2 separate regions of the Homo sapiens genome follow, and region 2 is linked to region 1. Evidence: fine-mapped expression QTL. Tissue or cell type: whole blood. Region 1 holds a variant in brackets; the other region holds the start of a gene. All regions are shown on one strand. Distances are between the middles of the regions.

Region 1 (5,371 bases):
ACAAATAGCCCGGAGCCAAGCAGTCATCAGCTGTCGAGTCTGCCAGGGAGCGTTGTCCTTCACGGAAAGCATCTAAAGCATTAGCTCTCTGCTGCGTGTGGTTAGAGTGTGCTGAACGTTTTCCGATGGCTTCATGGTTTGAGTTGACAGGATGACATCATGTGTGCCTAAGGCAGTGCCCGTGGTGGCCCAAAAAGTATGTGCAATGAGCAGAAAATTAGCACACTTGTCTCAAGAGGAGGTTTGGGAGTGGGTGTGAGATGGAGCAGGGACTCCCTCTTCACGGCCTGTGGATCTCCCAGGCATAGAAATAAAGAACAATCTTGCTTTTCTTCAAGGTAAATTTCAGTCACCTAGTTAGCCCCAAGAAGTAAATATGCAACTTGATAAGCAAGAAGGTAACGGTAGCCTAAAACAATAGCCAAGGAAGCTAGAAGCATCGGATGTGTAGTTCTCCTGTAGAAACTAAAGATGGTGGCCGGGCGCGGCGGCTCACGCCTGTAATCCCAGCGCTTTGGGAGGCTGAGGCGGGCGGATCACGAGGTCAGGAGATCGAGACCATCCTGGCTAACACGGTGAAACCCTGTCTCTATTAAAAACACACAAAAAATTAGCCGGGCATGGTGGCAGGCGCCTGTAGTCCCAGCTATTCGGGAGGCTAAGGCAGGAGAATGGCGTGAACCCTGGAGGCAGAACTTGCAGTGAGCCCAGATCGTGCCACTGCACTCCAGCCTGGGCAACAGAGCGTGACTCTGTCTCAAAAAAAAAAAAAAAAAAAAAAAGAAAGAAAAAGAAAAAGAAAGAAAGAAGCATGTGTTATGGGTTGTACTCTAAGGTGCCAGTAAGTCTGATGATCAGGACAAAGTAGGGGGCCCTAAAGGCTGGGGTCGAGCCTAAGTAAAGCTGCACACAGTGGAGAAGACCCGTTTAGAAGACCATGTGTGGTCTGTAATGTCAGCAAGGTTTGTTTGAGCCATCAGTTCTAGGAGGCCTCTAGCCCGAGAGTATAAGAGAGCAGAAAGTTGCTTTGAACGCCTTGTTCAAGAGCCCAGCGTTGGCCAGGCATGGTGGCTCATGCCTGTAATCCCAGCACTTTGGGAGGCTGAGACAGGTGGATCACGAGGTCAAGAGACCAAGACCATCCTGACCAACATGGTGAAACCCTGTCTCTACTAAAAATACAAAAATTAGCTGGGCGTAGTGGCGGGCACCTGTAGTCCCAGCTACTGGGGATGCTGAGGCAGGAGAACCGCTTGAACCCGGGAGGTAGGGGTTGCAGTGAGCTGAGATTGCACCACTACACTCCAGCCTGGTGACTAAGCGAGACTCCATCTCAAAAAATTAAAATAAAATAAATAAATAAATAAATAAATAAAAGAGCCCAGTGTTGTGTTGGAACAGGAATTAAAACAGATTAAAGAATGTGTAAGCAGAAACTCAGTTGTATGTAAGAAAACCCAATTCCCCCTGAGAACAAGAAAGAGCTGGAGTCTTTTAAAAATTAACTGCCTGTTTTTCTGTGGCTAGTGAGCCTTATCTCTCCTCCCTTCCCAGGCATTGTGAAGGCCCTGTTTCCCTAGTTGTGCAGCTGCAAGTTCACTAGACAGATAAACTCAAGTTGCAAAACATGTTTTGCCTTGAAAAGTAAGAAATGATGTAATGCACGTCTCAATTAATTGAATAACTCTCTTTGTCTCTCGCTTCTGTAATATGCTTCCCCCTGCACAGATCTCCCCCGGCCCCACAAAATGCTTCAAAGGTAACTTAACTCTTTGTTCAGGGCTCAGTCCTTTGGGTGTTAATCGGACTGGGCTGGTGCAGCTAAATAATAAATATCCTCCTGAACCCCATCGGTCTCTCTGATTCCTTATCAATCTCGCTACAGTGTCGTTTGAGAAAAGAACTGAGCACCTTGATCACTGTCAGTAGCATCTGTAACCCCAAGGGAAGGGCGGGTCTTGGTGAAACCCTGTATTGTGGCTCAGCAGGAGAACGTCTGGTGGGATTGGTAAGGAATATTTGCATTTAAGTGGCTTCCGTGATCACAGTATACGGAATAGCCTCTGCAAAGGTGGGCGGGGACCCTATAAAATCTATTTGCTCTCAGCCCTACCAACAGGCTTCCAGGGATTATGCCTCCTTGATTATATGTCATTTGCCTGTAGACTATTCATCTGCCTGCACATTGAGCGCTCAGCTGTGGTGTTTGAGTTTTCATAGGTACACAGATATTCGTGACCTTGATTTTTACTTGAGAAACTGTGAGGCAAAATATCCCCAGAGTGCTTTAACCTCAAAATATTGACCTAGGATACAGTTGTTGCCACAGTTTTTTTTAAGTGTGTTTTCGGTTTTTTTGTTTTGTTTTGTTTTCTATGTTTTTGTTGTTGTTGTTGTTTTTGAGACGGAGTTTCCCTCTTGTTGCCTAGGCTGAGTGCAGTGGGGCAATCTCAGCTCACTGCAACCTCCGCCTTCCAGGTTCAAGCGATTCTTCCCCCTTAGCCTCCGAGTAGCTGGGATTACAGGCACCCAC[C/G]ACCACACCCGGCTAATTTTTTGTATTTTTAGTAAAGACAGGGTTTCATCATGTTGGCCACACTGGTCTCAAACTCCTGACCTCAGGTGATCCACCCACCTTGGCCTCCCAAAGTGCTGTGATTACAGGCATGAGCCACCGCGCCCGGCTGGCTAGACCATTGCTAATGGCTCAAGAGTTCAGTTCTAGCAATTGTGCTGACCCTAGTTAGGGAATGGTAAAGCTTTCGTTGGTCACTCACTTGACCCCATGGGCCTCCCCAGGTGTCTACTGGTCAGGAGAGAGAGGGGACCTCCTCCAGTGTCATGGAATCTGACAACAGACTGAGGACAGAAGAAGCTGCTTTTTTCTACGGTGGATACCCCAAGGGCCCAGGTTTCCCTCTAAGTCAGTACCACTTTCATTTCAGGAAGGAGACCACCGTGGATGGGGGCTGCTGCCTGCAGGACCCGAGACCTGAAAACTGACCAATCAGGCAGCTGGGGTGGGGCCTAGAGAACTGACCAATCAGGGGAGTTGAGGTGGAGCATCCGGATGAGAACTGTCAATCAGGGGGGTTGGGGCAGAGCCTGGAGACCTGTCAAATCAAAGGAGCTGAGGCAGGGCGTGGAAACATGACCAATTAGGAAAGCTGGGGTGGGGCCTGAAGAACTGCCCAATCAGGGGAGCTCAGGGGATAGCAAGCTGACCAACCAGAAGAGGAGGGGCAGAGTCTAAAGAACTGTCCAATCAGGGGAGTTGGGATGTGACTGGTGAACTCTCCAATCAGAGATGAGCAGAGAAGAGAACCATCCAATCACAGCCCCAGGGGCGGGGCGTTGCTGTCCTCCCTGCAGAGCACACCCGGCCTGCCCTGAGTGACCACAGGTGTCCCCGTCGTGCTCACCTGCACCGGCTGCGAGGAGCAGGGAGCTCCTCAAAGAGCTCAGGAACGGACAGGACATGGTGAGTGCAGGGCAGGAGCCGAGCCGGAGCCGGAGCCCTGGGAGGGGAGGGTTGGAAGCGGCCAGAACACGCTGAAACTCCCGGGGGAGCCGCCCGGAACCCCCATGCAGCCTCTGTCCCTGTGTCACCCCCGGGTCCTGCGGGGAGTTTCCTCCCCTGCCCCAGTCTTCATTCCCTGGAAAGTCGTAGTTGTCAGGACGCTGGGATGGAGGGGAAAAAAAGGCAGAAATGACTCCTGCCCTGTGGGGTCTCGCGAAGTTAATTGGAAGAAAAACTAACCCAAAGTACAAAAAACAAAACAAAAAAAAAAAAAACCTCACCCCAGCGAGGCGGTGCAACAGCCCCAAAGCAGAATGCGCTTTGGATGCAGACTTTGGGCCCAGGCCCACGTCCCTGGGAGGGGCGAGGGGTGGACAGGTGGTGCGGGCGCTCCACGTGGCGGCACGGGCTGGCCTGACCCCAAAGGCCCGCAGGCCGGACTCCAGCCCAGCCGCCCCTGCCTGGGCCTCTCTCCTTCTAAAGATTGATTTGGTTACTTGAGCCTCAGATTTTTTCAGTCAATGGAACATACAGTAAATAATAGAGTTTGAAAGATAAAATATTTCCAAGGAGGTGAATTTCAGAAAAAAATAAAGTTCTCGTCTTACATTCCATTTGTTAAAAATTCTAGCGTGCCTTTTTTTTTTCTTTTTATTTTCTGTTCCTTTTTTGCCCGTGTGGTTAAGTTTCTCACATCTGTTGTTTTATTTTCGGTGATGACAAATGGGATTCCAGGGCTTAGCCCTTGACGGGGCTCCCGGGAAAAAGAATCGCAGAGAAAGAGAGAAAATCTCTCTTTTATTATGACACGCCCCGAAATGAATACATTCCTACAAGAAAAAAATGTTTGGTATATAATTTGGTGAATTACAAAAACTCGCTAAAATATCAGTTATTCTCCTTTTCCAGGATGGAGAATTTGTGATAGATGATAATTCTGTTCTTTTATTTTTTGTTTTTATTTTTTGAAACGGAGTCTTGCTCTGTCACCCAGGCTGGAGTGCAGTGGCGCGATCTCGGCTCACTGCAACCTCCGCCTCCTGAGTTCAAGCGATTGATTCTCCTGCCTCAGCCTCCCCAGCAGCTGGGACTACAGGTGTGTGCCACCACGTCCAGCTAATTTTTGTATTTTTAGTGGAGACAGGGTTTTACCATGTTGGCCAAGCTGGTCTCCAACTCCTGACCTCAGGTGATCCACCCGCCTTGGCCTCCCAGAATGCTTGGATTACAGGCAGCATGTGCCACCATGACTAGCTAATTTTTTTTTTTTTTTCAGATGGAGCCTCGCTCTGTCACCCAGGCTGGAGTGCAATGGCGCGATCTCTGCTTACTGCAACCTCCGCCTCCTGGGTTCAAGCGATTCTCCTACCTCAGCCTCCCGAATAGCTGGGATTACAGGCACGTGTGGCCACACCCAGCTAATTTTTGTATTTTTAGTAGAGACGGGGTTCCACCATGTTGGCCAGGCTGGTCTCGAACTCCTGACCTCAGCTGATCCACCCACCTCAGCCTCCCAAAGTGCTGGGATTACAGGCGTGAGCCACCACACCTGGCCCCTTTATCACTCTTTTATATTCACTCATAGGGATATATTGTTAGTGTTCATTAATTCCACTGCTTGCTAGTGACTATTCGGGTATTTTCAAATTTTTTCCATTGTGACCAGTGCCCCTAAAGACATTATTACATGTGTGTCCACTTGAATGCCTTATTCTCAGCTGCACTGCAGTATATCCTCATCCTCTCCCCAAGAGCCTGGTCCACATATTACCGCCTACATCTCAGTTGCTGGTAACTCCATTATTCCAGCTTTCCTGTGTGAAATAATTAGTCTTCCTTGATTCTTCCTGCTCT
Region 2 (5,371 bases), 26 kb before region 1:
TGAACAACTTTGAGAACAACTTTGTGTGCTGGTGCATTGATGTGTTTTTTGGGGAAAGCATCTGTAACTTCCAGCATATTCTTGAGAAGGGTTGACTTAGAAGTCTCCTGACTGTACTGTTTTCAGTCTTGTTATCTCCCTCCAGCAATTATATTTTATTTTTTGAGATGGAGTCTCACTGTGTTGCCCAGGCAGGAGTGCAATGGTGAGATTTCGGCTCACTGCAACCTCTGCCTCTGGGTTCAAGCGATTCTCCTGCCTCAGCTCCCAAGCAGCTGGGACTACAGGCATGCGCCACCACGCCCGGCTAATTTTTTTTGTATTTTTATTAGAGATGGGGCTTTCACCATGTTGGCCAGGCTGGTCTCAAACTCCTCACCTCAGGTTGTCCACCCACCTCAGCCTCCCAAAGTGCTGGGATTAGAGGCGTGAGCCACCGAGCCCGGGCACACTATTTTTAACTGGAAGCTGCTTTCCTATGTCAGTCCTCTAAACATTAATTTTTATAAAAGTGTGTAAAACCTTCCTAGGAAAGATAAAAATAAATTTTAAAAATTGTTTCTAAATGAAATGTCAATATCAGAATTTGAACAACCACTTAAGCTATGGAGTTTTCTGAAATGAATAACCATTAACTGTGTTTGGTTTTCAGCCCCTGTCTATTAAGTGTATTCAGTGTTTTCAGGCCTATCACAATCGTTTTTCCTTTTTTTAAAAAAAATTGAAGGCTGGGTGTGGTGGCTCACACCTGTAATCCAAGCACTTTGCAAGTCCGAGGCAGGTGGATCACCTGAGGTCAAGAGTTTGAGACCAGCCTGGCCAACATGGTGAAACCTCATCTCTACTAAAAAAATAAAAATTAGTAGGCCAGGCGTGGTGGCTCACACCTGTAATCCCAGCACTTTGGGAGGCCGAGGCGGGTGGATCACATAAGGTTGGGAGTTCGAGACCAGCCCGACCACCACGGAGAAACCCCGTCTCTACTAAAAATACAAAATTAGCCAGGCATGATGGCAGGTGCCTGTAGTCCCAGCTACTCGGGAAGCTGAACCAGGAGAATCGCTTGAACCTGGGAGGCAGAGGTTGCAGTGAGCCGAGATCTCGCCATTGCACTCCAGCCTGGGCAACAAGAGCGAAACTGCGTCTCAAAAAAACAAAAAACAAAAAAATTAGCTGGGTGTGGCGGGGCAGGTCTGTAGTCTCACCTACTCGGAAGGCTGAGGTACGATAATCACTTGAACCCGGGAGGTGGAGTTTACAGTGAGTCGGGATCCTGCCATTGCACTCCAGCCTGGGTGACAGAGCAAGACTGAAAAAACCAAAAATTTAAAAAAAAAACACTTCCCTCCTAAGGTTCAATCCAATTCATTTAAACTTTTGCGTGTTTTTCTTATATCAGTTAAAATAGGGATTCAATATCCTTAGAAATATAGCCTTTTCTGTTTTAAATATAACATCTAAAAATTGTAGTAAAATACAAATAACAAATATTTACCATGTTCATCATTTTTAAGTCTAAAGTTCAGTGGCGTTAGATACGTTCCTGTTGTGCAATATTATAGACTTCCTTTTTTTTTTTTTTTTTTTTTTGAGACGGAGTCTTGCTGTGTCCCCCAGGCTGGAGTGCAGTGGAATGATCTTGACTCACTGCAACCTCTGCCTCCCTGGGTTCAAGCGATTCTTTTTGTTTTTGTTGTTGTTGTTTGTTTGTTTGTTTGTTTTTGAGACGGAGTCTCGCTTTGTCACCCAGGCTGGAGTGGTGGAGTGCAGTGGCGCGATCTCGGCTCACTGCAACCTCTGCCTCCCGGGTTCACGCCATTCTCCCGCCTCAGCCTCCCGAGTAGCTGGGACTACAGGCACCCGCCACCAGGCCTGGCTAATTTTTTTGTATTTTTTAGTAGAGACGGGGTTTCACCGTGTTAGCCAGGATGGTCTCGATCTCCTGACCTCGTGATCCGCCCGCCTCGGCCTCCCAAAGTGCTGGGATTACAGGCGTGAGCCACCGTGCCCGGCCTCAAGCGATTCTCTTGCCTCAGCCTCCCTAGCTGGGATTACAGGTGCGCGCCACCACGCCCGGCTAATTTTGTATTTTTAGTAGAGACAGGGTTTTGCCATGTTGGGCAGGCTGGTCTTGAACTCCTGACCTCAGGTGATCCGCCCGCCTCGGCCTCCCAAAGTGCTGGGATTACAGGCGTGAGCCACAGCGCCCGGCCAGCTTTTCAATCTTCCAAATTTTGGGGGGATGTACTTAAAAAAATGATCTGAAAACATTTTCCTTAGAGTTTAAAATATGAACTTGAGAGTTTTTTTGTTTTTTAATATGGAGTCTCACTCTGTCGCCCAGGCTAGACTGCAGTGGGGCGATCTCGGGTCACTACAACCTCCACCTCTCGGGTTCAAGCAATTCTCCTGCCCCAGCATCCCCAGTAGCTGAGATTACAGGCGCCCGGCACCACGCCGGGCTGATTTCTGTATTTTTAGTAGAGAAAGGGTTTCACCATATTGGCCACGATGGTCTCAAACTCCTGAACTCAGATGATCCGTCCACCTCGGTCTCCCAAAGTGCTGGGATTACAGGCGTGAGCCACTGCGCCCAGCCAAATGTGAGGGTTTTAATGAACATCTCATATCTTCTGGTTGATTTGAGCAAAGCTCCTGCCCCCTGCCAGGCTTTGGGTTCGGCCTCCCCCAGACCGGGTCTCCGGATTCGCAGCCCCCTGGGCGGGGTCTCCATGTCGCCCGCAGCGCGATGACGTCACGTCTGCGGGTCCCGCCCCCACGTAGGTCTCGGCCCTTCGGACCCGGCGCCCAGCCCCCGTTCGCCCTGCCAGGCCCGGGCCGCCCGCTTGCATCCACCTCCTGTCCGGACAAGGGGTCGCCTCGTGAGGAAACTAGTCTGGAGTTCCCACGCCCGTCCCGGAGGAGGACGCGGGCGGGGCGCCCGAACTGCGGGGAGAGGGCGATTCCGCCCCGGGCTGAAACCAGTTCGCCCAGAAGCCAGTGTCCCCGCAGGGCGGGACAGCCACGCGTGTTCGCAACGCTCCCGTCACTCACCGGCAGGGGGTGGGCCCTAGGGAACTACCCAGTCAGGACGGGCGGGGGCGGGGCCGAGACAAGTATCCAATGAGGGACGCCCAATCGGAATCCGGGGAACTGCCCAATTTACAGCGCCAGGGGACGGACTGGGGAATTCTCCAATCAGAGTCGCCGACGTTGGCAGCACTGTCCAATCAGAAGCGCGGCTTCCCGAGCTCTGTCTAATCAGGCCCCTGGGACGGGACGCCTCTGTCCTAGCCGTGAGTGCCCCGCCTGCCCCTAGCGGTCCCTGGCGTCCCGGTTCCTGTCGCGCTCACCTGCGCCGGTAGCGAAGAAATCGCCCCGGGACATGGTGAGTGTGGCGCAGGAGAGGATCCCGGTGCGGGGCAGCAGGAACCGGCGACCGCCCGAGACCGCGGCTTGGGGGGAGCTGAGGGACGCGGGGGGCGGCCCCGGCGAGGGCGGCGCAGGACGGGAGCCTGGGCCCCGGGGGTCCCGCCCGGCCCCGCCTCCCGCGCTGAGGTCGCGGCTAGGGCGCTCCGAGCTCCGGGTCCCCGCCCGCCTCTGGCCCCAAGGCTGCAGAGCGGGGAGCGGCGCCCGGAGCCCGACTCCGTCCCCGTCGTCCCGGGGTCCCCGCGTCCCTGCGCTCCCGACCCCCCACGCCCCGCCCGGGGCCGCGACGCCTCGGAGCGTTTCGCTGCGGCTTCGGGACCCCCGGGCCGCGGGAGGCAGAGTCGCCCGAGACCCCGAGGTGCGGTCCAGGCTCCCCCGGGACCCGCCCTGGGGCCGACGCCGCGGTGCCTCCTGGGGTGCGGGTCCCTGGTCGGTGCCGCCTCCGCTCGCGCTCCCGCGGCTCAGCTCCTTGGAGGCCCCGCGCCTCCGGCCGCGGTCTCTGGGGGACCCTGGGTTCCTCCCGGGACAGCCCGGGAGCGGTGGGGCCTCGGCGGGGGCGGAGACGCCCCCACCTGCAAAGGCAGCCCCTGGGGCGTGCGAGGTTTCCTCCCCTGAGTCCCGGTTTTCCTTCTTGAGGACTTCTTGTCCCCTCTGACCCCAAGATGCCTGGGGTAGGTAAGGGGAAAAAAAACAAGGGTTCCTGGTCCCTGGGCTCTCACACACAAGGAAGAAAAGTAACTGAAAAGACTAGAGAAACAAGGGAGAGCGAGGACCCCAAAAGCAAACGCACGCAGACCCACAGCGGGGACGCCCGGGAGGCTGGTGCATTAGTGTCCTCGGACTGCTGTAGCAACTGACTGCAAACGAGGGGGCTAAAACCACGGAAATATATTCTTTCACGGTTCCCTAGAAAGTGTGGATTTGAAGACGTTTCTCAGTTCTGTTTTGAGTACTAGCAATGGGATTCCTTGCTGAGGCAACACCTGAGTTGGGGGTGGGAGGGCGTCCGTCGTGGTAGCCTGGCCAGACTTGACCCCTCCCTGGGTTTGTCACTGTGAAAAGATTTTCCTTTTTTCGAGTCAGCAGTTTTTAGGAAGTGAAACGTACATTTAATTAGTAGAAGTTGGAAGATAAAATATTTCCAGGCCGGGCGCGGTGGCTCAAGCCTGTCATCCCAGCACTGTGACAGGCCGAGGGGAGCAGATTACTTGAGGTCAGGAGTTGGGGACCAGCCTGGCCAACATGGAGAAACCCCGTCTCTGCTAGAAATACAAAAATTAGCTGGGCGTGGTGGCGGGTGCCTGTAGTCCCAGCTACTCGGGAGGCTGAGGCGGGAAAATCACTTGAACGCAGAAGGCGGAGGTTGCGGTGAGCTGAGAACGCGCCATTGCACTCCAGCCTGGGTGACAGAGCGAGACTCCGTCTCAAAAAAAAAAAAAAACTTCCAACGGGGTGAATTTCAGGAAAAAAATTAAAATCTGTGTCTTACATTCCATTTGTTAAACATTCCCTGGAGTGTGTGTCGTTTCTCAGATCTGTTATTTTCTGTTTTCTTTTATTACTATTATTTTTTTGGGAGCTCTGTTGCCCATGCTGGAGTGCACTGGTGCGATCACAGCTCACTGCAGCCTCCACCTCCTGGGCTCAAGCAATCTTCCTGCCTCAGCCTTCTGAACACAGGGACTCCAGGTGTGTGCCGCCATGCCTAAGCTTTTGTATTTTTTTGTTTCTAGGGATGGGGTCTCATTCTGTTACCCAGGCTGGTCTCGAACTCCTGAGCTCAGGTGATTCTCCCTCCTCGACCAGCCTTGTTCTTTTCTTTTGAATGACAATAAATAGGATTCCAGGGCCTAAACTTCAAAATGTTACTGGGGAGAAGAGTCTCAGAGAAACAGAGAAAATCTCCTTTCCACCATACGTGCAGAAAAATGAATACATTGCC

What was found. PIP is the estimated chance that this variant, and not a neighbour inherited with it, causes the effect.
Region 2: ZNF555 starts here. The variant in region 1 is the best candidate, but not a certain one, in a credible set for the expression of ZNF555 in whole blood (INTERVAL, PIP 0.79).

What each region holds. Positions count from the first base shown.
Region 1 is chr19:2,863,947-2,869,317 of GRCh38, forward strand. It overlaps ZNF556 (zinc finger protein 556), which reads left to right and starts at 3,389. Exons shown (of 4, transcript NM_024967.3): 1 at 3,389-3,478. The coding sequence starts at 3,476. The variant C/G (reference allele first, on the strand shown) is at 2,534.
Region 2 is chr19:2,838,188-2,843,558 of GRCh38, forward strand. It overlaps ZNF555 (zinc finger protein 555), which reads left to right and starts at 3,288. Exons shown (of 4, transcript NM_152791.5): 1 at 3,288-3,388. The coding sequence starts at 3,386. RefSeq lists silencers at 2,749-2,858, 2,869-3,058, 3,279-3,578, 3,619-3,668.